7 linked regions of the Homo sapiens genome follow. The protein of the gene in region 6 purifies or fractionates together with the protein of the main gene of each other region. This does not show direct contact. Each region holds a gene or a part of one and is shown on either strand. Other genes may lie near its edges. The genes, in order: GPATCH11, LRRC47, MRPS31, ANXA5, RAP1A, DNAJC8 and HDLBP.

Region 1 (2,613 bases), on a different chromosome or scaffold from region 6:
TATTTAAATTTCCTCACAATTAAGTTTCTCTAGCCAAAACTTCCAACAGATCACATATAATGGATATAGACATTGTCATGAAAACTCATGATTTTACCAGAAATTATCACAGTTAAATGGATTAGAATTTAGTAGTACTGGTCGAACATTGCCTCTGACATCAGCCTTATTGAGGGGAATACTTTTCCCCTCCTCTTCATGCTTGGATGGAGGGAAGGGAACTTCTCCTTGCTCCTTCAAAGCAAGAAGTGTAGGAAAAAGCTCTCTGAACCCTCATTCATTCCTTCCCAAGAGAGAACTGTCTTATCCCATGGGTGATACAAGAAGGAACTGAGCATGTGTGGTCCAGCCCCTGGTGGTTTCCCTGACCTTGAAAGCTAACTGGTCTCAGAATGCAAAGATGGGCTCTGCCCCAACAAGGCAGAGACCCGCTGTTCTCTCCAATCAGGGAGAAATATTACAGTCTCTGACTGGAGAAAAAGTCAACCTTCTTCTCTGTATCAGTTTATTCACTGATAAAGTGGATATTTTTCTCTTCCTCTGACTCCCATTTCTTATTTCTCAATTTGTTCCAAAGTGAAGAGGGGAATAAGAAGTTACCTGTTGGTGTCCTTAAACCCCTCACGTATCACAATATAGCAATAAATTGTAACTGTCCATCTCTGTGATACTTGTGTTCTGAAATGCCATTGCATTATTTTTTTCAAGTCAATGAACATTCATATTCTAAAGTACAAAAAGAACAAAACATTATATAAAGTCCCCCTTTCTTTACTGGCATAAAAAATTTGAGATTTCCAACTGCTAAATTGTCTATCCCTAGGAAGTAATAACATTTTTCAAGTTTCCACTTTATTGGGAATAATCTTAGTCATGATCTGCAGAAGTTGGTCCTGGACAATTTGAAGATAGGTCTTCTTTATCTGTAAGTTATGTGAGGGAAATGAAAGATTAATACAACTTCTACAGTAAACTAGAAAATTATTTCAACATAACATGCATTTTTTGATCTGATGTTTTCTACTTATTCTGCTAAACCAGAAAAGATAAAAACAACAATAACCAAAAATGCTTCACTCTCAAGTACAAAGTTCTTAAATACAAGTTAGCAAAGGTAGCTTGGGCAAAGGTGTTAGAAGGAGAAACACTTGGCTCTGTAAGACACCTGGTAAGTGTAAACCATTTCTATCCTTACAATGGAAAAAAAAAGGAATGGATTTCAACATATCTGATTTTTACGGTTTAGGGGCAATATTCTATCTAAGTATATAAAAATTAGCTCTAAAATTTAATATAAATTCTTTCAAATATCTGTAGCCAAAGAAAGAATCTTTAAAAATAAAGCACAAAACATTCATCATTCTCAGGTTATTCTAAAATTGTTTCTTTTGAAACAAAACACTGAAAAATTCACTTCCACACATTCAGTTTCTGAAAAGTTAAATGCAATTTTAATAAAGCCTCAATTATTTCTATATCCACTATTTAAGAAATTGGTCCCATACTGCCATTTGAATGGAATAAGAAATTTCCATTGTCAGTGGGAAATGACTTTAACTAAAAATTGGAGAGCATTCATCTATTTTTAAAAAGCATAAAGTAATTTTCTTACCTTCATAGGCTGTTCCACACCAAATACAATATAGATGTTCTTCTCTTAAATAACTAGTCAATATTTGTAATTTTTCCAGTACCTATAGGATACAAGCACATTATTAATACTTTACATTGAACAGAACCTTGGTTTTCTGGCTCTTAGATCGTGCCGAATTAGCTCAAGGCTGTAAATATTCTGCTATACTCTGGAATAGTTATTAGAAATGTCAAGGACAGAACTGATATATTCGAATGTGTTACAGTTCATTAGCCACCCTGAGATTTCCACAAGTCTGCCAGACACAATGGAGACTGCTTGTTAACATTGAGAAAATAGTTTTTGGGTGGCCTTATTAAAATTGGCATCCTTTAAAGGCTTTTTCTACTTTCAAGGCATTTACCTCCCCCAGATAAGGTGAAGGTGAATATGGCCTCCTTTTGCCATAAAAGTTCTCATCAATGGTCTCCCAATTAAGTGGAATATAGGTTTTTCAAATTGTGAATGTTTTCCACAAAATTATTATACTCAAGTAAGCATACGAGTGTGTTTTCCTTTCTTGAATAATCTCCATTTCCTTTTTTTTTTTTTTTTGTGAGACAGGGTCTCGGTCTATCACCTAGGCTGGAGTGCAGTGGCGTGATCTTGGCTCACCGCAACCTCTGCCTCCCGGGCTCACGTGATCCTCCTACCTCAGCCTCCTGAGTAGCTAGGATTATTGGGTGCCCCACACCTGGCTAATTTTTGTATTTTTAGTAGAGACTAAAATACACTACCATGTTGGCCAGGCTGGTCTTAAACTCCTGACCTCAAGTGATCCACCAGTTTTGGTCTCCCAAAGTGTTTGGATTACAGGTGTGAGCCACCATGCCCGGCCTCCATTTTCTTTTGATTGTGTTTTTTTGTTGTTTATAAGTAGGAGAAAAAAGTACACATTAGAATGACTTGTAGAAGTTTTGCAGGAAATAAGGTATAAATTAAAATAATTTACATTTGTTGCTAATTCATCATCCAAACTG
Region 2 (3,500 bases), about 24 Mb from region 6:
TACAAAGGCAGTTGAGTTTTACGGAAGGAGTATTATCATTTAAATTACAAATGTCTCCCAAAGTTAGCTTGGCCCAAGCCCAGGAATAATTAAAGGTAGTTTGAAGGGCCAGGCGCGGTGGCTCCTGCCTGTAATCCCAGCAGTTTGGGAGGCTGAGGCAGGCGGATCACCTGAGGTCGGGAGTTCTAAACCAGCCTGACCAACATGGAGAAACCCATCTCTAGCTGGGCATGGTGGCACATGCCTGTAATCCTAGCTACTCAGGAAGCCAAGGCAGGAGAATCGCTTAAACCCGGGAGGCGGAGGTTGCAATGAGCCAAGATGATACCATTGCACTCCAGCCTGGGCAACAAGAGCAAAACTCCATTTAAAAAAAAAAAAAGGTAGTTGGAAGGCCAAAGATGGGGATTGGTTAGATCAGATCTCTTTCACCACCATAATTTTCTCACTGTTACAGTTTTTGCAAAGGTGGTTTCATTGGCATTTCCTGGAAGAGGCGAGTTCACTGGCATTTTCCTTGGTCCTCAGGGCTGTAGGCATCCCTCTAGGACTAAGGTGTGATGTTGGATACAGCATGGTCTACTCCCACCTTCCCACCTGACAGATACTTTTGGTTTTCCAGAGTGTTGATGTACTAGGCATGTATCTTAACATTGTGCCTTACATCATGTAAGTGTCCAGTCAGTTGCAATATTTCTCTTCAAATTCATAGATGTCTTTCAGTATTCAAGTTCTTAAAAGTGTTGTGGGCCAGGCCCACGCTTGTTATCCCAGCACTTTAGGAGGCCAAGGCGGGCGAATCACGAGGTCAAGAGATCGAGACCATCCTGGCCAACATGGTGAAACCCCGTTTCTACTAAAAATACAAAAATTAGCTGGGTGTGGTGGTGCATGCCTGTAGTCCCAGCTACTCGGGAGGCCGAGGCAGGAGAATCGCTTGAACCCGGGAGGCAGAGGTTGCAGTGAACCGAGATTGCACCACTGCACTCCAGCCTGGGTGAGAAAGTGAGACTGCGTCTCAAAAAAAAAAAAAAGTGTGCGTCCAGCTCTCTGTAGCACCTGCCTGGTAAAGCATTCCTCTTTATGGTGCCCAAAACAATGTCATTCAAGTCAAAGAGTGTGTCTTGTTTTCTAAATCCCAAAAGAGGTGGCCAAGTTCCCTTTCCCCTGGGCCATTCTGTTCGTAAATTTTAGGCGTCCAGTGGCTCTCTATCAGGAGACCTGTTTCTTGGAGGGTCATGCAAGAGCTATTGGAATCCCTTGTTGCACTCAGATGTCCTTTTGGGTACCTTTCTGAGGAATGGCTACCAGAACTATGCCCAGCAATGTAGCTACGCACATTGGAATTTCGCACACAAAGGCAAATGCATTTGATGTCCTTCCTGGTGCTGTGGGGAGATGGGGAGTGTAGAAAACCAGAAAACTGAGCTCAGAAACAGAAGGCAGGCTGGGCACAGTGGTTCATGCCTGGCATCCCAGCCCTTCAGGAGGCTGAGGCGGGCGGATCACTTGAGCCCAGGAGTTTGAGACCAGCCTGGGCAACATGGTGAAAACCTGTCTCTATAAAAAATACAAAAATTAGCTGGGTGTGGTGGTGTGCACCTGTAGTCCCAGCTACTCAGGAGGCTGAGGTGGGGTGAACGCTTAAACCTGGGAGGTTGAGGCTGCAGTGAGCCATGATCACACCACTGCACTCCAGCCTGGGCAACAGAGCTAGACCCTGTCTTAAAGAAAGGAGAGAGAGGCCGGGTGCGGTGGCTCATGCCTATTATCCCAGCACTTTGGGAGGCTGAGGCGGGCGGATCACCTGAGGTTGGGAGTTGAAGACCAGCCTGACCAACATGGAGAAACCCCGTCTCTACTAAAAATACAAAATTAGCCGGGCGTGGTGGCGCATGCCTGTAATCCCAGCTACTCGGGAAGCTGAGGCAGGAGAATTGCTTGAACCTGGGAGGCGGAGGTTTCGGTGAGCCAAGATGGTGCTGTTGCACTCCAGTCTGGGCAATAAGAGTGAAACTTCGTCTCAAGAAAAAAGGAGAGAAAGAAGGGGGAGGAAAGGAAAAAAAACAGAAGGCACGGGCTCCAGCCCTGTCTCTCTGTGGCTGCGTGCCGTTGGGTCTTGAAGGCTCTTTGCTCCTCTGTAGGAAGACTGGGAGGGTAACGCAGTACACGAAGAGGGAAAGAGATGGGGGAGGTAGTGCTGGTCATTGTGGCTGCTTGACTCCGAAACCACGAGGCTTAAAGCAGCAGCGGCTCTGCGCTCTGGGCTGGCTCCGCCAGACAGTGGACAGTGAACAGTGGACAGTGCTGCAGCTCTTGCTGCTGGTCGCTCGCGTGGCTGTGCTCAGCTGGCGTGGGCTCAGGGCTGGGCTGCCGGGGTGGGTGGGCTTCTCCGTGTGTCGTCTCGGGGCCTCTCCCTCCCCTTCTTTCACAGGGCTCAGGGCTCCTCAGTACAAAAGCAGCAGCTGCCAGCCCTTCTTCAGGCATCAACCTGGAACATGCTTCCTGCCACTTTCCTGCGTTCCGTGGGTTAACTAAGTGCGAGCCCAGTTCCGGTTCTTTGGGAGGACTGGCTCTTTAGGGGCCGCCAAAATAACAGCACAGAGCTTCTGCCTGTCCTTTCCCTCCCCAGAGGGGCGAGACTGCAAATGGAAGCAGCTCGGCCTGGCTCCTAGTGCCCATCCCCACAGCCATTCCCCAGGGAGCACCCCCAAGCCTGGGCTGGGACCTGCAGTGCAAAGGCCCTGACCCTCTTTCCTCCCAGCCACTGGGGACGAGGCCTCTGCTGTCCTATGGCCTCAGCAGTAGCTCTGCCTGCGTGGGAGCCTGGCTTCCCCAGTGTCCTGGCCTCAGAGCCACGTGGCTTGCTGAGACCTGAGAGCACCCGGCCGGCCCTCCCTGGCTGCTTCCCGCTGCTGTGGCCCGTGGGGCTCAGCTGGCAGTGCTGTGGTGAGCCGAGGATGGGGGCACGTCACACCTCTCCTGACTGCATTGTAAGTGGCCATCACGCAGGCGTGTGGTGTCCGTGTGGGAATGAGGGATGGATGGGACAGATGTTACCTGAACAGCTGATGTGGGCAGGACGGTGCCTTAGTAAAGACATCCTTTCAGGCCCTGGGCCACTCCCCTCCCAAGGCCAAGCTGCACAGGGGAGTTCAGCCTCAATGTGAACCCTCCTGAAGCCAAAGGCTCTCCCCCAGCTTCCGAGTTTCTCAGTTGCTGCCGGAGGGAGTGGGGCTCACTCAGGGGCTGGCGCTCCTTATTGGGTTGGTTTATGTCAGCCTGTCACCACCATGAAGTTAGGATCCTTCCCCGGCAGCAGGTCCCCTGCAAAAGCCATGGGCCCGGAAGGCAGCCGGTATGCCAGGCCAGAGTCAGGACCCACGTTGCTGCCGTCAGCTTAGCCACTGCGAGGGTTGTGTTTCCTGCAGTAGAGTGTCAGCTCCGGGTGACAGGTGACGGCATTTCATCCCATCAGGTGTCAGGAGGACCCCTAGCCA
Region 3 (3,500 bases), on a different chromosome or scaffold from region 6:
TTCTACATAGAATATTTCACTTAAGATATTTTCTCATAGTTTTTGTTGACAGTTTAAAATATATTCATTAAAATGTTATTTTCTTTTTTTGGACTTAGGAAAAATATATTCACAGGGAAAAGACTTAATATTTTTGACATGATGGCAGTTACTAAAGAAGCACCTGAAACAGGTTTGTTAAGAATAACACTCTTTCTCAGGTGGAGAAACATTCCATCGTTCCAGGATGTCCTTAGTGTTCTAATAGTTTGGATATTTTAATATTCCATTCTGTCATTGGCCTGGATCCTGCTTATGAATGTGGCGGTTGTTACAAGGAAAACTTGGGACTGTAATGTCCGCCTAAACTGGGAAGGCGTCAAGAGACCAAAGAATAATTTGGGCAAGTCCAGCTTGATGAATAGATGAGTTTACTAGAACTTACATTACATACTGGACATTCCTGAGCAGCTCTAGAGTCACCCTGCCTCCCATCTCTAAGCAGCCTTTCAGCTAATGTTTTGTTTGCCTACTCTGTGTGCGCGATGACTGTTACCTGATATGTTCCCAGGTATGCCCTGGGATGTTTGGGTTCTCAGGGACACCTGCTCCTCAGCTAGGCACCATGGCCTTGGCTCCCTGCTCAGCCTTCAGGATCCAAGCAACACACATACACTCTTAAGTAACCTGGTGGGGGTTACTACAGTTGTCAACATTGCTAGTTTCGGTCAGGCTTCCCCCTTGAAATGTTGCATTCTGTGAGACAGCGGGAGGTAAGTACTACCGATTACCGAATCCAGAGGTCCAGATTAGCTACTAATTTGAGTTAGAACAATAATAATCAACTACCATTTACAGTGTATCTCTATGCTATTACATAAAGATATACTGGTTCCTGCCCTTAGGCAGCTTAGAAGAGGAGACAGCATTTACAAAATAACTTACTGAAGTGACTTAGTGATTGTTTAGGAGATGGGAAGAACATTCAAGGAATATATTTAACAGACTTGTAGTGTTTTCTTTGGGTAAGAAATTTGCCATTTTAAGTCTAAAAGAGAAATAAGAGTGTCCTCTTGCTTGACATTAAATTTAGTTTACTAGTAAAATAAATGAAGAAACTTAATACAAATGGTCTCTAGTGTATAAGTGATGAGCATTTCTAAAGAAAATAAGTTAGTTTTTTGGATATTGGTAGAAACAATGTTGTATGTGGACTTGGGAGGCTGAGACAACATGATGGCTTGCGACTAGGAGTTCAAGACCAGCCTGGGCAACATAGCCCCTTTCTCTAAAAAATAGAAAAAAATTATCCAGGCATGGTGGTGCATGCCTGTAATCCTAGTGACTTGGGAAGTTGAAGTGGCAGGATCACTGGAGCCCAGAATTTGAGGCTGCTGTGAGCTATGATTGTGCTATAACACTCCATCCTAAGAATCAAAGTGAGACTCCATCTCGAAGGGGAAAAAAAAAAAGAATGTTGTATATGATAGATAAGTTCCTAGGCGGGCCTCCAAAGGCTCATTTAATCTTTCTACAGTTACTTATACGAACTTTTGATTTTCCCTCTATTTAATAGACTATTAGGGGCTATATCTCATTCATGTAGCACCTACTCATGTGGCTTACAGATCATAGGAACTAGGTGTCTTAAATCTTAAATTCTTTTTTGAACAAACTGTACTGTAAAATATATATCTGTAGAGGAAAGAAGTTAATTCAGTGTTTGTTCATTTGAATTGAAGGTGAAGCTAAAAGAACAACCCCCTTCTTATATTACAAAAACTGCATTCTCTTGTGTATGATGAGAAGGAAGTGCAAAATGCGTAGGGACAAGGAATCGCCTCTTCCCTGCTCAAATGGTTAAGCGTGCATCAGAAAGGAATTTCTTGGCCGGGCACGGTGGCTCATGCCTGTAATCCCAGCACTTTCGGAGGCTGAGGTGGGTGGATCACTTGAGGTCAGGAGTTTGAGACCAGCCTGGCCAACATGGTGAAACCCTGTCTCTACCAAAAATACAAAAATTAGCTGGGCATGGTGGCGGGTGCCTGTAATCCCAGCTACTCGGAAGGTTGAGGCAGGAGAATCACTTGCACCCAGGAGGCGGAGGTTGCAGTGAGCCAAGATTGTACCATTACACTCCAGCCTAAGTGACGAGCAAAACTGTCTCAAAAAAAAAAAGAAAGAAAGAAATTGGTTGTCAGGGCAGCTGCTGTTGTCCAGCCAAAAGAGGCACTTGAAGATTCTTGAGAGTCTTGAAGGAACCATCTTACTTTTTAAAATAAAAAAATCTTATTTCTAAAACTGAAGTTAGTTGGCAAGGAAGCATTGAAGTTTTATATATTTTATAAAACAGTATCAAATTATTATACTCTAGTTAGGAAAATAGCACACAACTTTAATAATTTAATGAAGGTACTGTTTAAATATGCTATACTTGCATGAGTCTAAAGAATGGTTTTTGTTCCCAATTAAATACAAGAATAGCAAAATGTGGAAACGTAAATTTAGCAATTGTTCACTGTTGTTTTCCCACCACCTGAAATAATGCTGGAAATACAGTTGGCATTCAGTAATTTTTTTATTGACTGATTGAATGAGTTATTCTGTTCCATGATTCCCATGTCTTGTTCCCCACTAAGTTCTTACCACTGCTACAAAGGATATACTCATAGGCCCTACTGGTTATCCTAGAGTCGACAGGCAGTATAGCTTAACAGAAAGAGTGTTGGTGTTGTGTAGAACTGGATTCAAATTCAGATTCTGCCACACTAACTTTTCCCCACCTATAAAATGAGGGCTACTACATACATCTCAAAGATTAAGTGAGGTAATATGAGAAAAGTGTCAGGCACAGTGCCTGGAACATAGTACATATTTAACAAATGCTTACAAATATTAGCAAGTGTAAAAATATAGTGATGATCCTAATGATGATGGAAAAGACATAGGTGGGTCAGTGACCACCAAGTAAAAGATAACTGAGACAATTAAGTTATTTTTGATGTGATTGCTCTGTAAATGTGGCTAGTTAAGGCTAACAACTGATTGTTTCCCAGTATCAGATGATCTAGGCCAAATATCTAGCAGTCAGTGTGTGGCTAGATACATTTCTGCACATAAAGGCTCATAGAAATAGATTCAGAAAAAGCAAAATAGATAAAATAAGGCTTACCCAGGTAGAAGAGTAATTGAGCTATTTGTTGATATGCTTTAGTGGGGGCTTGGCAAAAGTGGGTAAAGAGGTAAGCTGGAGGATAGGTCATATGCAATCTATGCCTCTAACCCGGAAACTGTTCCTAGGAATTTGTTCTAAGGAAATATTACAGATACGCGCTAAAGTGTAACTACAAGGATATTTGTCACTATAGTATTTAAAAGAGAAAATATATAAATGATCAAAATATTGAATAGTAAGGGATTGTGATACATATATATGTAATATATATATATATATATATATATATATATAAAATGGGATACTAATGCAAGCATTCAGTGAAAAAAGTAGATTACCAAACTAT
Region 4 (3,500 bases), on a different chromosome or scaffold from region 6:
TAGGATCTTCTGGATGACCTGAAATCAGAACTAACTGGAAAATTTGAAAAATTAATTGTGGCTCTGATGAAACCCTCTCGGCTTTATGATGCTTATGAACTGAAACATGCCTTGAAGGTAAAAAGGATGAGTGAAAGGAACATTCTTGCATAGATAGTATTATTTTGTTTTGGTAATTACTTCCTCTTATTTGTTATATTTAAAAAATTTTATCTGATTATTTCAGTGAGAGTTGCTTGGCAGACAAAACTGGGAGGCAATAAGCAGTAAAGGAGGGAGAAAATTACACGTGTGTCATTTCATCTTTTTGTAGATTTAAACTCAATAATACTGGGCTGTTTAAAATTTTCATATTTTTATAGCTTTTTGTATTTTATTTTCATGCCTGTCTTCTGATTTTGAGGATGTTTAAAAAATATTACAGATGAGCTATTTTATCTTTTTCAGTAGAAAATTGCCTGATTAGGGAACCATAATATTGCTCATCATTTTAGGTTAAAAGGTAAAGCTTCAGAGAGAATTTTCAAGATAAATATTTTCTCATACTCTTTCCTTCTTTCCTGCCCCTCTAAACACTAAAATGAAGTAGCTGGTAAACTTGCTATAATTTCAGTTGCAGCAAAAATTAAATATGTATTCCCTTGACTGGTGTTTGGAATGTTGTATAAATATGAAGGCATTGACACATTTGTTTAGGCTCATGGGACAGGAAGTAGTTCAGTTGTTAGCTGTTAGATTTTGAATGGGCACATTGAGATTTAACAAGGAAATAATGTTTCTCAGGGATTCTTACTGATGGAGTGGAGAGAGGAGAAGGGTCATCCTGATAGGAGCTGGTTTGTGCTCAGTCTCTTCATTTTCCTATGGTGATTCTTTTGGAATAAACAAAAATCTGAGGTTATTGAGAAAAGCACTTTTTTTGCTAAGTACTTCTGAAATGTCAGCAGTAGTTGAAATTCTGCCAGAGAATGAACTCTAGGTTTTTCAGTGCTTGATTTTTGGCAAAAAATAGAAATATAAAGAAAATAAGGCTTCAATATACTATCTTTTAAAAAAAATTAAGTCCAGCTATATCGTTGCATCTCTTAGTTTAATCATATAGATGTGATTTTTAAAAGCAGAAAAAGGAAAGCCAACTAAAATGATTTTTCAAAAATCCAGAAAGCAAGTCCCAATTCCTTTATACTGTTCTAATTCCTAATAATTAAGTATTGCTATATTTATTGTTACCTTTGATGTAGAATTTTCCTGTGACTGCACAGCACTTAACTTGGGGGTCAGGGGTTTATCTTTTGAGGTGCTTATTAAGTATCAGTGCTCTTCCATGTACATTTACGTGAAGTTTTCATTTTTACTCTTTCGGTTTTTAAAAAATTACTTCATGTTTCATGAAAATGTTTTACTTTTAAGCTAGAATTAACTGATCAAATTAAAAGTTACAAATTTATGTAACTGGTTATGTATACGTACACATATATACACACATACACATGATAAACATTGTTTTCCATTAGGCAAAAAGAATAAAATGGTCTTTGGAGAGAAAATCATTTAAAACTTGTTATTTCTATAACTAATAGAACTCATATACAAAGAAATCCATGTTATACTGGATAATATTTATATAACTATGCAATTTGGGTAACATCTATAACTTTCTTTTAATAACTTTCTTTTTAATCTTATTGACATGTTTTCTCTATTAAAATCTCCAAACAGGGAGCTGGAACAAATGAAAAAGTACTGACAGAAATTATTGCTTCAAGGACACCTGAAGAACTGAGAGCCATCAAACAAGTTTATGAAGAAGGTAAATGTTTGTGAGTTATATTTTGACTTCACCTCCACTATCACTTCCTTCATTTCTGTGATTTGAATGCAGTCCTTTGTAGGTATGGGAGGCACGCAGTAAATGATGGATGAATGAATGAATGAATGAATGACCTGCAATTCAAGCTATTTTTCTCCTTCAGTAAGGAAAAGACTGCCTTGTTATCCTCTACTATTTTCATATTTTATAAGAAGCTACTGCTGAAGATGGAGTTTACTTTTGCATAGGATTTGCAATTAGTGTAGGGATATACAGGTTGTCTTTATGTTAACATTAAGGTAAAAATGGTTTTTCCTCCTTTAAAAATATTTAGCTTTATGCTAGCAAAATTTAGGAGTTATATAAAAAGTACTTTTGGAACTTTGGAAGAGAAACCTAAACCCTTTCCCACATCAGAGTTGATAAAGTACATTTGAGTAAATGTATGTTGTCTTAGCTAATGGCAGTGCTTGAATAAAATATTCTGCATTTTGATTTTTCTTTTTAGTGTGTCTTTTATATGAACAGAAATCTGCATTTCGGCCTAAAATATGTCTCATGAATAGAATCAAGAAAATGAAGTAAAAAGTAGAGGTAGAGAGTCCTTTTCTTACCAGATTTCTTGTAGCCAACTCTTTCTCCTGCCTGACTGAGGAGGGTCAGACTATCCAGTTTCTCAGCTCAGTCAACAGACTCCAAGCCTAGTGTCTTTTGCTAGGGGCTGTATCTTGCCATTAGTTTGTTAATCTTAGAAATGGCTTTGTTAACCCAGCAAGTCAAAACAGCAAAAAATTGTTTAGAGCAACTGTATAATTACCTTTCTAAAGGGCTGAATCTCTCTTTCCTGCTTCTCTTTTTATAGGCAGTAAGTTCCCAACCGCTAAGGCAGAAGTGATACATGTATCTCAACTTTGAACTTTATTTGATGTACTATTCAAAGATCTCTTTCTGGGGATGTTGACGTTGATGAGAGCCTTTGTGCTACTGGATTACAAATGGTGTGCTCAAAGGGGGTAATAACTGTGTGGTCTGTCCTACTCAGCCGTGTAATTGAGCACTGGCTATGTGTCTGGCAGTGTGTTAACAGGCTGTCATGAGTGACAAAAGGTGTGCATAACACAGCTCCTGTCCTCAAGCAGTTTGTGTGCAGTCTCCTCAGTGGGTGACATGACAGAATGACTGCAATATTTAAAGGATAATGAAATTCAAACTAAAGTAAAATACCAATGATGTTAAATGCAATAATGCATTCAGAAGAGAGAGGTCATCATAGCTTTGGATGTTAGGGAGGCTTCATGGTACAAATCACACATGCAGCAGAGTTTCAAGACTAGGTGGGTTTACAAAGTGTCCATTGACAGATGAATAGATAAAGAATACGTACACACACACACACAAACACAGACACACACACACAGGAGTACTGTTCAGTCTTAAAGAGGGGAAATCCTGTCATTTCAACATCATGGATAAACGTGGAGGACATAATGCAAAGTGAAATAAGCTAGGCACAAGGCATAAGCTATGCATGATCTCACTTCTTATGTTGAATCTAAAAAAATTGAACTCATAGAAACAGATAGTAAAACAGTGTTTGCTAGGGTGTAGGGGTGGGGTGAATGGGAGAAGGGACTGGTGAAATATTGGTCAAAGCATACACGATTTTAGTTAGGCAGGATGAATAAGTTCT
Region 5 (3,500 bases), about 83 Mb from region 6:
GTATACTGCAACAATTTAAAACAGCATAATTACAAGTGAGTAACATTTTTTATTACTTGCTATCCTGACAGAAAACAAGACATAACACAAGTTTCTAGCAACTGAGGTGACTAGAAACAATGACAGTAAACTAGAATTAAAAAGGAATTCTTAACCACTTTAATTTGCTTTTGTGTGATTTAGAGCTGTATATAATTTTTTAGAAACAGATCTTTTGATCCTAAATAATTTTATTTGCAAATTTATGACACAACTACTGCCCAAGTGCTAACAATCTGAGGTATAAGCCCAATACTAAACTATGACTTCATCATCCAGAATCAATATCTCTACTGGCAGATTTTATCATCTTTCTTTTTCTATTCCCATGGCATAGCAATATTTTTATCATCTTGACAGTCAATAAACTCTTTATAAGAGCTTGTTAATGGTCAGGGGCAATGACTCACACCTGTAATACCAACACTTTGGAAGGCCAAGGCAGGTGTATCACCCCAGGTCAGGAGTTCAAGACTAGCCTGGCCAACACAGTGAAACCCTGCCTCTACTAAAAATACAACATTAGCCGGGCGTAGTGGTGCACACCTGTAGTCCCAGCTACTTGGTGGAAGAAGAATCACTTGAACCCGGGAGGTGGAGGTTGCAGTGAGCCAACATCGCACCACTGCACTCAAGCCTGGGCAACAAGAGTGAAACTCTGTCTCGGAAAAAAAAAAAAAAGAGCTTGTTCATGTATTTTCATTTTCCCCCTCATTCCAAACCTTTAGAAAAGATGTGAGAATAGTGCAATGACTATCTATCCCCTTTAGTTAAATTTACTAATGGTTAACATTTAGTTACTGAGCTTTAGTCATGCCAAATTAAAATTACTTAATTTTAAACTTCCTTTTATTTGGTGACAATCATTACTTTATGTTGTAACTATGGAGGTTAATATAAGACAAAATCTTCTTTTAGAAAAGTTTTGGTATTATATATATATATTACTTAAAAAGCACATATGGCAGAATATTAAAAATGTGTATGTCTTGGGTCTTTATATTAAATAACTATACAGTTTGGATCTTTTTACCTCTGGATGCATTAAACGTAAAAGATAAATCCACAAAGTTTCTTAAGCTTGTTGTGCCTTGGCTTCCTTGTTCCCCATGACCACTACCTCTATTTTGTCTACTACATCTAAAATAGTTCTGGTTGTTCTACCCTGGCTGATGTACTCTTTCTTGTATTCCAGGGAGTTAGCTATGCTACCACTCAGCCATTTCCCCAGCTTCAAATTCGTCTAAGGTGTGCCACAGGAACATGGCTGAGCTTCCTATACTGCTGCCAGTGTATTTTCTGGGAAAGATGTAAAAACTGGAAGTTTCCTGGATTTTTCATTGATAAAGTTTGCATATTCCAGAATTGCACCACTATGGTAACCAATTAAATTCTGCCACTGTCCAAATGTTTATATAATAAATGAGTTTACTTACAAATGTTAAGTGCTACAAATACTAGCAACACTATTTCTATGATGTTCTCTAGAGATCATGGTCTCTGCTTCTTATTAAATCAAAAGAATAAACATACAGGCAACCTGAGTTCTGAAAATCCAGTTTAAGAAAAGTCCTTACAGAACTGCTGTGGTTGGTGTTCCCTCCTATTGAGAATGCCAACCTCCTTCTTAAGGACATTCTACAAGTTTCATCCATTCACAACAAATATCCACTGACATAGTTGTAGCCCTATGGATATGTTAGTGATCATGAGAGGCAAAAATTTCTGCCCTGGAGGAGTATACATGGAGACAGACAAAAATCAAGTATGCAAGATGGTAATAAATGTTATAGAGAAAAGTAAAGGTTGGGAGTTTATTTTGAGGGTAGGAATATAAAGTTATATTTTAAAAGACTATGCTCAGGGAAGGCCTCACGGGTAACATTTGAGCAACCATGTGAGGGAGGTGAGGGAATAAGCTCTATGGTTATGTGGAGGAAGACTACCCCAAGCACAGGAAAGAGCAAATGCAAAGGCCCCAAAGGGAAACATGTCTAAAGTGTATGAGAAGCTGTAAGGAGGCTGGATTCATTGAAACATTGTTACCTAGTGGGTGAGTATAGCAGTGGGGGCCAGAGAAGGGACAAAGAGAGAGGATTCTCATTTGGACCTTTCAGGGAAATGTAATAAAGACCTGGGCTTTTACTCTGAGTTTAATGCATAATTTAAGCTGAGGAAAACATGATCTGACTTACATTTAAATGGAATTATGATGGTTACTGTGTGGAGAACAATCTGAAGGGGGTGAAGAAGAGAAGCAGGGAGATCAGTTTTGAGGTTATTGAAATAATCCAGCTGAGAGATGACAACTGTTTAGACCAAGATAGTGTCATTAGATTCTAGTGGTGGTAGCTGAGTTCTGGGTAAGTTTTTAAGGTAAAGCCAGTAGGGTTTTCTGAGAGTTTGGATGTACACATAATATAACAAAAAATACAGTCAAGGACGACTCCATGGTTTCAGGCATAACCAACTAAAAAGGTACTATTTACTGAGATGGGAAAGACTGGAAAGACCCAGGTCAGGGAAAGGTTATCAGGAGTTCAGTTTGGACATGTTATATTTGAGATGCTTATAAGACATACAAAAAGAGATATTGAAGAGGCAGTTAGATATAAGAGCTCGAAGTTCAGAAAAGAAATGAGAGATAGGGATATTGTTTGGATGTTTGTCACCTCCAAACCTTATGCTGAAATGTAATCCCCAGTGTTGGAGGTGAGGCCTGTGGGAGGTATTTGGGTCATGGAGGTGGATCCCTCATGAATAGCTTGGTGCTATCCTCACAATTATGAGTTCTCGTGAGATCTGGTTGTTTAAAAGTGTGTGGCATCTCCCGCTCACTCTTTGCTCTTGCCATGTAAAACACCTACTCCTCTTTGCCTTTCACTATGATTGTAAGCTTCCTGAGGTGTTCACCAGAAGCAGATGCTGGAGCTATGCTTGTATAGCCTGCAGAACCATGAGCCAATTAAACCTCTTTTCTTCATAAATTATCCAGCCTCAGGTATTTCTTTACAATAATGCAAACGGCCTAATACAGACAGGGTTACAAAGTTAGTATTTATCAGCATACAGATTGTATTTAAAACCAAGCAACTACAAGATCTCCAAAGCAGTGTTGTTAGGAAAGAGAAGTGCAAGTATTGAACCCTGAGGTCCTCCAACATTAAGAGGTAGGGGAGATAAAGAGGAATTAGGAAAGGAGACTTAGGAGTAACCAATGAGACAGAGGAAATCAGGCAAGTATTGTTTCTTGGAAGCCAAATGAATAAAGGTTTTACATTAGAAAGCAATGATAAACTGAGTCAAAGGCTGCTGAAAAGTCAAGGGAGTTGAGGATATATTCAAGAGAATTATAAATGATGGACCGTGGACCTGAAGCTATATGCAGAGGGGGTTGAAGATATAAGGGATAATAAAAAGATGTTAGGATAAATGGACTACAGGTTGTAACGAAGTTGAAG
Region 6 (3,500 bases):
TAGTTTATTTCTTTCTAAAATTTTTTTTTTTGAGATGGAGTCTCTGTCGCCCAGGCTGGAGTGCAGTGGCGCAATCTCGGCTCACCGCAACCTCTGCCTCCCGGGTTCAAGCGATTCTTCTGCCTCAGCCTCCCGAGTAGCTGGGACTACAGGCATGTGCCACCACGCCTGGCTAATTTTTGTATTTTTTGTAGAGATGGGTTTCACCATATTGGCCAGGCTTTTCTCAAACTCCTGACCTTGTGATCTGCCTGCCTCGGCCTCTCAAAGTGCCGTGATTACAGACGTGAGCCACCACACCCAGATCTTTAAAAAGTTTTTTTAACAGGCGGCCCTCTGAACCAGAATAGGTTCAGAGAGACTCCCTAAACTACTTTCTAATTGTTCACATTTACAAATAATTTTGAAGTGAATATTTTTGTATCTGTTAAATAATAGAAACAACACTTATTGGGCACTTAGAAAAAAACTCCCCTCACTTTTTTTTATTGTGGAAAAATATATATAACATAAAATTTGCCATTTTGGCCAGGTGTGGTGGCTCACGCCTGTAATCTCAGCACTTTGGGAGGCCAAGGTGGGAGGATCACTTTAGGCCAGGAGTTTGAGACCAGCCTGGCCAACATGGCGAAACCCCATCTCCACAAAAATAATACAAACATTGCTGGGCATGGTGGTGCATGCCTGTAATCTCAGCTACTTGGGAGGCTAAGGCCCAAGAATCACTTAAACCCAGGAGGCGGAGGTTGCAGTGAGCCGAGATTGTGCTACTGTACTCCAGCCTGGGCGACAGAACGAGACTGTCTCAAAAAAAAAAAAAAAAATTACCATTTAAATTTTTTTTTAGTTTTACAATTCAGTGGCATTAAGTACATTCACAGTGTTGTGTAACCATCACCACTGTTCATATTCAGAAATTTTTCGTCACCCCAACCAGAAACTCTGTATCCACTAAACAGTAACTCCTCATTTTCTCCCTGACCCCTGGTAACCTCTACTCTACTTTGTCTATGAATTTGCCTCTTCTAGGAAACCCGTGTAAGTGGAATGGTACCGTATTTGTTACTTTGTGTCTGGCTTATTTCACTTAGCATGATATTTTCAAGGTTCATCTGTTTTCTGTTTTTTGAAGAGTAATTTTTCAAGAATTTTTTCATTTATAAATAATCTCAGATTAACAAATATTTCAAATACAATATGAAGACTTTTCCTTGAACTCTTTAAGAGTAAATTGTTAGTATGATGGTCCATCACCCTGATATACTTTAATGTGATTTTTCTACAAATATCCTCTTACTGAACCACAATATAAACTATCAAAATCAGGAAATGAACCCTGATACATTGTTACTATGTAAATCATCAGACCCCATTCAAATTTTACTAATTGTCCCAAAAAAGTCTTTCTCAGGGCCTCTCTGGATACATTGTTACTATATAATCATCAGACCCCATTCAGGTTTTACTAATTGTCCCAAAAAGGTGTTTTTCAGGGCCTCTCTATCACTCCGCTCACTGTATAGCTCACTGCAACCTCGAACTCCTGGGCTCTGGGCTCAATTGATCCTCCTACCTCAGATTTTCAAAATACTGGGATTCAAGGTGTGAGCCACTGTGTTTGGCTCTTTGGTTTGTTTGTTTGTTTCGTGACAGAGTCTCACTCCACTGCCCAGACTGGAGTGCAGTGGCGCAATATCGGTTCACTGCAACCTCCGCCTCACGGGTTCAAGTGATTCTCCTGACTCAGCCTCCCTGGTTGCTGGGATTACAGGAGCGTGCCACCATGCCCTGCTAATTTTTTGTATTTTTAGTAGAGATGGGGTTTCACCAAGCTGGCCAGGCTTGTCTCGAACTCCTGACCTCATGATCCGCCCTCCTCAGCCTCCCAAAAAGTGCTGGGATTTCAGGCGTGAGCCACCACACCTGGCGTGTTTGTTTTGTTTTGTAAGATGGGGTCTCCCTGGCCAGGCGCGGTGGCTCACACCTGTAATTCCAACACTTTGGGAGGCTGAGGCGGGCAGATCACTTGAGGTCAGGAGTTCAAGACCAGCTTGGCTAACATGGTGAAACCCTGTCTCTACTAAAAATAAAAAAATTAACCGGGTGTGATGGAGTGCCCCTGTAATCCCAGCTACTTGGGAGGCTGAGGCAGGAGAATTGCTTGAACCTGGGAGGCAGAGGTTGCAGTGAGCCGAGATTGCACCATTGCACTCCAGCCTGGGCGACAGAGTGAGACTCCATCTCAAAAATAAAAAGAAGTGTCATGAGGTTACTATTTTTCCCCTTTGTAATGAATAAGTATTTTATGTGGAGGTGCTTTGAAACTTGGTAAATATCCTGTCCATATCAAAATTTTAGTTCATTTATTTGCCAGTATGGACTTAGGTTTTTCTATTTTATTCAGTACGTTGTAATTTTATGTTTATTTTGATGCTCAGATTGTCTCAAGTTTGGCCAGTGGGTTACCTTTCAATCTAGCTCCTGTGTCTTTCATATGTCTTCATCATTCTTTGATTAGTAGGCACTTTTGTGTTTTTCCTGACCCAGCCTGGAATTAACCATTTCACCAAGGAGCGCTGGTTCCTTTTGGCAGAGAATGATATATAGAAATCAAGATTTGAATGCTAGGTAGATTCATTGCTGTTGGGATATCACAGCTTACAGACCCTGGAGTCTGTGTGTTTGTGTGTGTACATATATGTTTACACCCAACATCCATTTTCAGTCCAACCCCACAGGATTTATTCTAATAGTTAGAAACCTGGTTCCCACTATCTTTTCTTTATTATTATTCTTTTTTTCTTTTTTTTTTTTTTGTAAAGACAAGGTCTCACTATGTTGCCCAGGTTGATCACAAACTCTTGGCCTCAAATGATCCTCCCTTGGCCTCCCAAAGTACTGGGATTGATTATAGCATTACAGCCAGTGCACCTGGCGCTGGCTCCTACAGAATTTAATATCTACATTTACTTAATTGATCTCTCTGTATGCAACTAACTTCCCACTGCCACTCCTTCCCTCTGAATGCTCTCCTCACCCCGCTGTACTCTGATACCAGCACCAGGATATGTCTATGCAAAAACCTTTCTCACCACACCTGGGCTCTGAACTCCCATGTCAGGCCACCCTTCCATGTGGCTCTCTGGCTTTCTGAGCCTGCTCTCTTCCTGCTGGGGGCCCTTTTCACTGATCATGGGCTCCAGCATCCCACACTGATCCTCCCCGCTGAGTAGGCATCTTCCCTACCCTGCTCTGGCTTTGACATCCTCCGTCAAGCCACCTTCTTCCATGAACACCTTTCTCCTCTTACTCGGGGTCTGGCTCCACATACCATGTCTCTTTTCATATTTTTTGGGCTCTGAACCTTGTGTTGGGCTGCCTTTTCACACTGGATGCCCTACTACTTGGACACCCTTCTCACCATACCAGGCTTCCATACCCCATGCTTGGCTGCCCTTTGTGGGAATGTCCTTGCTTGGGTTCTTGTACCCTGTGCCAGG
Region 7 (3,500 bases), on a different chromosome or scaffold from region 6:
AAGCTTTTCCCTCTTTTGGTAAGAAGTAACCAAGTTCTGAAAGAAGCATATCATGCGGCTTTCCCAATTGCCAAGTTATGATGACACAAAGTCCAAAATGCGTGTAAAGGTTTTTGACCAAGTAGAAAAGCAGAGAACCCCAACCAGTATAATGTGTCAGAATGCTTTTTCTCTTCAATTGTAAAAGCACCACAACGTTCAACATCTGGAAACCAAGAAAATAATGAAAAGAACCTTTTTTCATGTGTATAATATTTTAAAACTTGGTTACATGTTATTTTTTGGTATTTCTAAAGTCAGAGACATTTTAGAAGTGAAATCCCTAGTAGGCTATTGTTTTACCAAGCACACTGAAGTTCCTCGAATACCGTTGAAGATGAGCTAGACATTTGTTCTGAGACGTGTCTGGACATCATGTGGTTGTGTTAGTCATCTTGTTGATACTTGTTGTTAATTTGGTAAGAATACATTGACTACATACTCTCCCTTACTACTTTTTATTAGCATTCATATTAATCTTATTTCAAATCAAGGTTACAGCTTCATGTCATTTGTAGAGTCAGATAATCCTAGAAAGGCTTGTAAGAAAGAAGTGCCAACATCCTTCCCCTAATCATGTTTCCTCCCCTGCAGAGTATCTACTTCAGCCTTAGTAGATTTCCTTGATCTTTGCCTCCAACTCTAAAGAGCATATTTGCTTGACGTCTGTATTTGTGTCTCCTACCCCTGTTTCATGTGATGTCTCTTCGCTTGACACTGAGAATAGGTAGGAAGTTCCTAGCTTTCTTTCACCCTCTGCCTTCTCAGTGCAAACGGATCCATGGCTGCCCAAAGTGATATATCCTTAATTTGGTTAGTTCAGTATTGATTGTTTATATTATGACTACATATTGCCATTTACAGCTGGACGAAGTGGTATAATAGGATTGTTTTCACTTTTCTGGATAACTTTTTGTTTTCCTGGGTTATTACAAGTCTTATTTGTTTTTGTTTGCTTGCTGCTTGCTCAGTTTTCTATATTTTGTCACTACAATTCAACCCCAAATTCTGAAGCAATTATCTAAATCTTTCAAGAAATTGTCCGTTTTCTTTTGAAGAAAATTAGTATTCCTATCATTTTATCTTGAATAAATCTCTCCCAGCGCCTCCAATCTGCTGCAGGCTTGTCTGTGCCTGAAATCTTCCTGTAACTCTCCTCACTCCCTCTTGTGTTGGAGCCTCACTTTTCTGGAACCTATGTCATTCTCTTGATTTGACTGTCTCACTTCGATGGAGCACATCCTTCACTAGTTGCCTGAGAAGTGCATGGCAGATGAAGTTTTCAGAATTTGTATGTACGAAAGTGCCTCGTTCTGCTCTTATCCTGAGTAGGAATTTGGACATCATTTTGCTCCGCGGTCTCTAAGTTTCCAGTGTTGTTGAAGTCTTAAGCCGTTCTGATTCTCTTTTATTGATACGTAACATTTTTAGAGCCTTTGTGTGTGACTATGTTTTCCTCCATGAAACCTGAAGGTTTTTGTTTCTTTTTTTTCTTCTTTCTTTCTTTTGTTTTTTTTTGAGACACAGCGTCTTGCTCTGTTGCTCAGGCTGTAGTGCGGTGGCGCTGTCATAGCTCACTGCAGCTGCAATCTCCTGGGCTTGAGTGATGCTCCTGCCTCGGCCTCCCAAGTACCTGGGACTACAGGCATGCACCGCCACACCTGGATAATTTTAAAAACTTTTTGTAGACATGAGCTCTCTATGTTGCCCAGGCTGATCTTGAACTCCTGGCCTCAAGTGATTCTCCTGCCTCAGACTCCCGAAGTGCTGGGAGTGAAGGCTTTGCATCTGGCCTCAGAGGCTTTTCTTTCTGTGAAATTCAGAACTCCCAGAACAGTGATGTCCCTTGGAGACTGTTTTCATCCATCGTCTTGCCTACTCTTTGGTCCTGTTTATTTGCAACTCATGTTCTTCAACGCTGGGCATTTTTTTGATTTATTGCTTTGATTTCTTCCTATTTGCTTTCTCTCTCTCTCTCTAGAATTCTACTCTTGGACTTTCTGGATTGGCACTCATAATTTTCTTAAGGTTTCTTTTTCCCCCCTCTAAAATTTTTGTTTTTGTTTTTATCTTTTAAATTGTAAATTGACAAATTATACTTGTACATATTTAGGGGGTACAAAGTGATGTTACGATTTATGGATACAATAAATAATAAAATCAAGTTAACATAATTCATCACTTCAAATACTTTAAGTTTTTTGTGGTGAAAGCATATGAGATTACTGTCAGCACTTTTGAAATCGACATTATTATTTACTATATTCACCGTGCTGTACAATATATCTCATAAAAGAAAACCACATTCCTCCTGTCTAATTGATGTTTTGTACCCTTTGGTTTTTCATTTTCTTTCTGGAAGTTATTCTCAAGTTTGTCTTCCAGCCCTTCTACCAAGGTTTTTCTCATTTCTAAGAGCTTTTTCTTGTTCCCTCTATTCCTATTTTATAACCTATTTTTTGTTTCATGAATGTGGTATCTCCTGTTAACTGTTGGAAGATATTGATGAGGTTTTATTTTTCCCTGTTTTCTTTTTCCTTAAGTCACTATTGAGGCTGCTCTGGTTTGTTGTGGGTTTTTGGCTTTTGTCAGCCTTTTCTGGGCTATGCAGTGATGTTCTTGTGCCTGCTCGTGAGTCAGAGGGCCTCTGAGCCTGTGTCTGTGGCTGACTGTGGCTTTCACTGCAGAGGCACCTGGCTGGGCCATTTCCTTACAGCACCCTTGTCAGCTTCTTTGGGTTTCTTCAGATTCCCCAGAGAAATATCTTGTAGCCCTTTGCCTGGCTGAGTGGCCAAGTGAGGAGAGAGGCCTGGGAGCACAGCAGTAACCATAAAAGAGCTTACTTCCCTCTTTTCAGAATTGTTTCCCTCCTCTGTAACTGGTGTCCCCAGTCCAAAGATTCTACTTCCCTTTGCAGACAGAAAAGCGATACCTTTTTGCCAGGATAGGAGAGGGACTGTGCAGGTTGGCTCTGTGTGGCTGTGCAGAGTTGTGGGGTGCATCTTAGGGATCTTCGTGCCTTTTAAACCTATCAGCCAACTCTGTTTTTAATTCAGGTCTCCTGGCTTCCAGTCATATTGCCAGTTGGCCTTCCCCATTGCCGATACAGGATTCAGCCCTTTTAGGTCTGTTTCCAGTTTCTAGCCTCCAGTATTTTAATGTTCTTATCTCTATTCTTATTCTTTGCTTTCGTGATTTGTATCTTAAAAAAAGAAAAAATCGTTTACTATCATTTTAGTGGTGCTTCACGAAGTAGTGTAAATGTATTGATCTGACAACGGCTCGTGCTGGAGACACTGTTCCAGGAAGTGGGACACAGTAAGGAAAATGCAAGTGTGTTCTCCTGCACTTTCACGGAGGTCACGTTTTGGTAAGCGGTGTCAGGCAGTCAGCAGACCAGCAGATATGCAGTATGTCCAATGTGGACAAGAAGAAAGGAGGAAAATAAAGTATCGAGGGGA

What was found.
Region 1: the proteins of DNAJC8 (region 6) and GPATCH11 purify together in Homo sapiens (affinity purification with mass spectrometry; 2 studies listed by BioGRID and IntAct, with this or other methods). This does not show direct contact.
Region 2: the proteins of DNAJC8 (region 6) and LRRC47 purify together in Homo sapiens (affinity purification with mass spectrometry, with the first as the bait; one large-scale study listed by BioGRID). This does not show direct contact.
Region 3: the proteins of DNAJC8 (region 6) and MRPS31 purify together in Homo sapiens (affinity purification with mass spectrometry, with the first as the bait; one large-scale study listed by BioGRID). This does not show direct contact.
Region 4: the proteins of DNAJC8 (region 6) and ANXA5 purify together in Homo sapiens (affinity purification with mass spectrometry, with the first as the bait; one large-scale study listed by BioGRID). This does not show direct contact.
Region 5: the proteins of DNAJC8 (region 6) and RAP1A purify together in Homo sapiens (affinity purification with mass spectrometry; 2 studies listed by BioGRID and IntAct, with this or other methods). This does not show direct contact.
Region 7: the proteins of DNAJC8 (region 6) and HDLBP purify together in Homo sapiens (affinity purification with mass spectrometry, with the first as the bait; one large-scale study listed by BioGRID). This does not show direct contact.

The regions. Positions count from the first base shown.
Region 1 is NC_000002.12:37,094,518-37,097,130, reverse strand, and holds part of GPATCH11 (G patch domain-containing protein 11), read right to left. Parts: intron 2,480-2,613; exon of another isoform or gene 2,371-2,479; intron 1,695-2,370; coding exon 1,613-1,694; intron 924-1,612; coding exon 868-923; 3' UTR 1-867.
Region 2 is NC_000001.11:3,789,999-3,793,498, reverse strand, and holds part of LRRC47 (leucine-rich repeat-containing protein 47), read left to right. Parts: intron 1-3,500.
Region 3 is NC_000013.11:40,750,691-40,754,190, reverse strand, and holds part of MRPS31 (small ribosomal subunit protein mS31), read left to right. Parts: intron 1-98; coding exon 99-172; intron 173-1,721; exon of another isoform or gene 1,722-1,918; intron 1,919-3,500.
Region 4 is NC_000004.12:121,679,981-121,683,480, reverse strand, and holds part of ANXA5 (annexin A5), read left to right. Parts: intron 1-3; coding exon 4-117; intron 118-1,719; coding exon 1,720-1,810; intron 1,811-2,672; coding exon of another isoform or gene 2,673-2,725; exon of another isoform or gene 2,726-3,500. UniProt on the Homo sapiens protein: This protein is an anticoagulant protein that acts as an indirect inhibitor of the thromboplastin-specific complex, which is involved in the blood coagulation cascade.
Region 5 is NC_000001.11:111,699,789-111,703,288, reverse strand, and holds part of RAP1A (ras-related protein Rap-1A precursor), read right to left. Parts: intron 1-3,500. UniProt on the Homo sapiens protein: Counteracts the mitogenic function of Ras, at least partly because it can interact with Ras GAPs and RAF in a competitive manner. Together with ITGB1BP1, regulates KRIT1 localization to microtubules and membranes.
Region 6 is NC_000001.11:28,223,030-28,226,529, reverse strand, and holds part of DNAJC8 (dnaJ homolog subfamily C member 8), read left to right. Parts: intron 1-3,500. UniProt on the Homo sapiens protein: Suppresses polyglutamine (polyQ) aggregation of ATXN3 in neuronal cells.
Region 7 is NC_000002.12:241,309,173-241,312,672, reverse strand, and holds part of HDLBP (vigilin), read left to right. Parts: intron 1-3,500. UniProt on the Homo sapiens protein: Appears to play a role in cell sterol metabolism. It may function to protect cells from over-accumulation of cholesterol.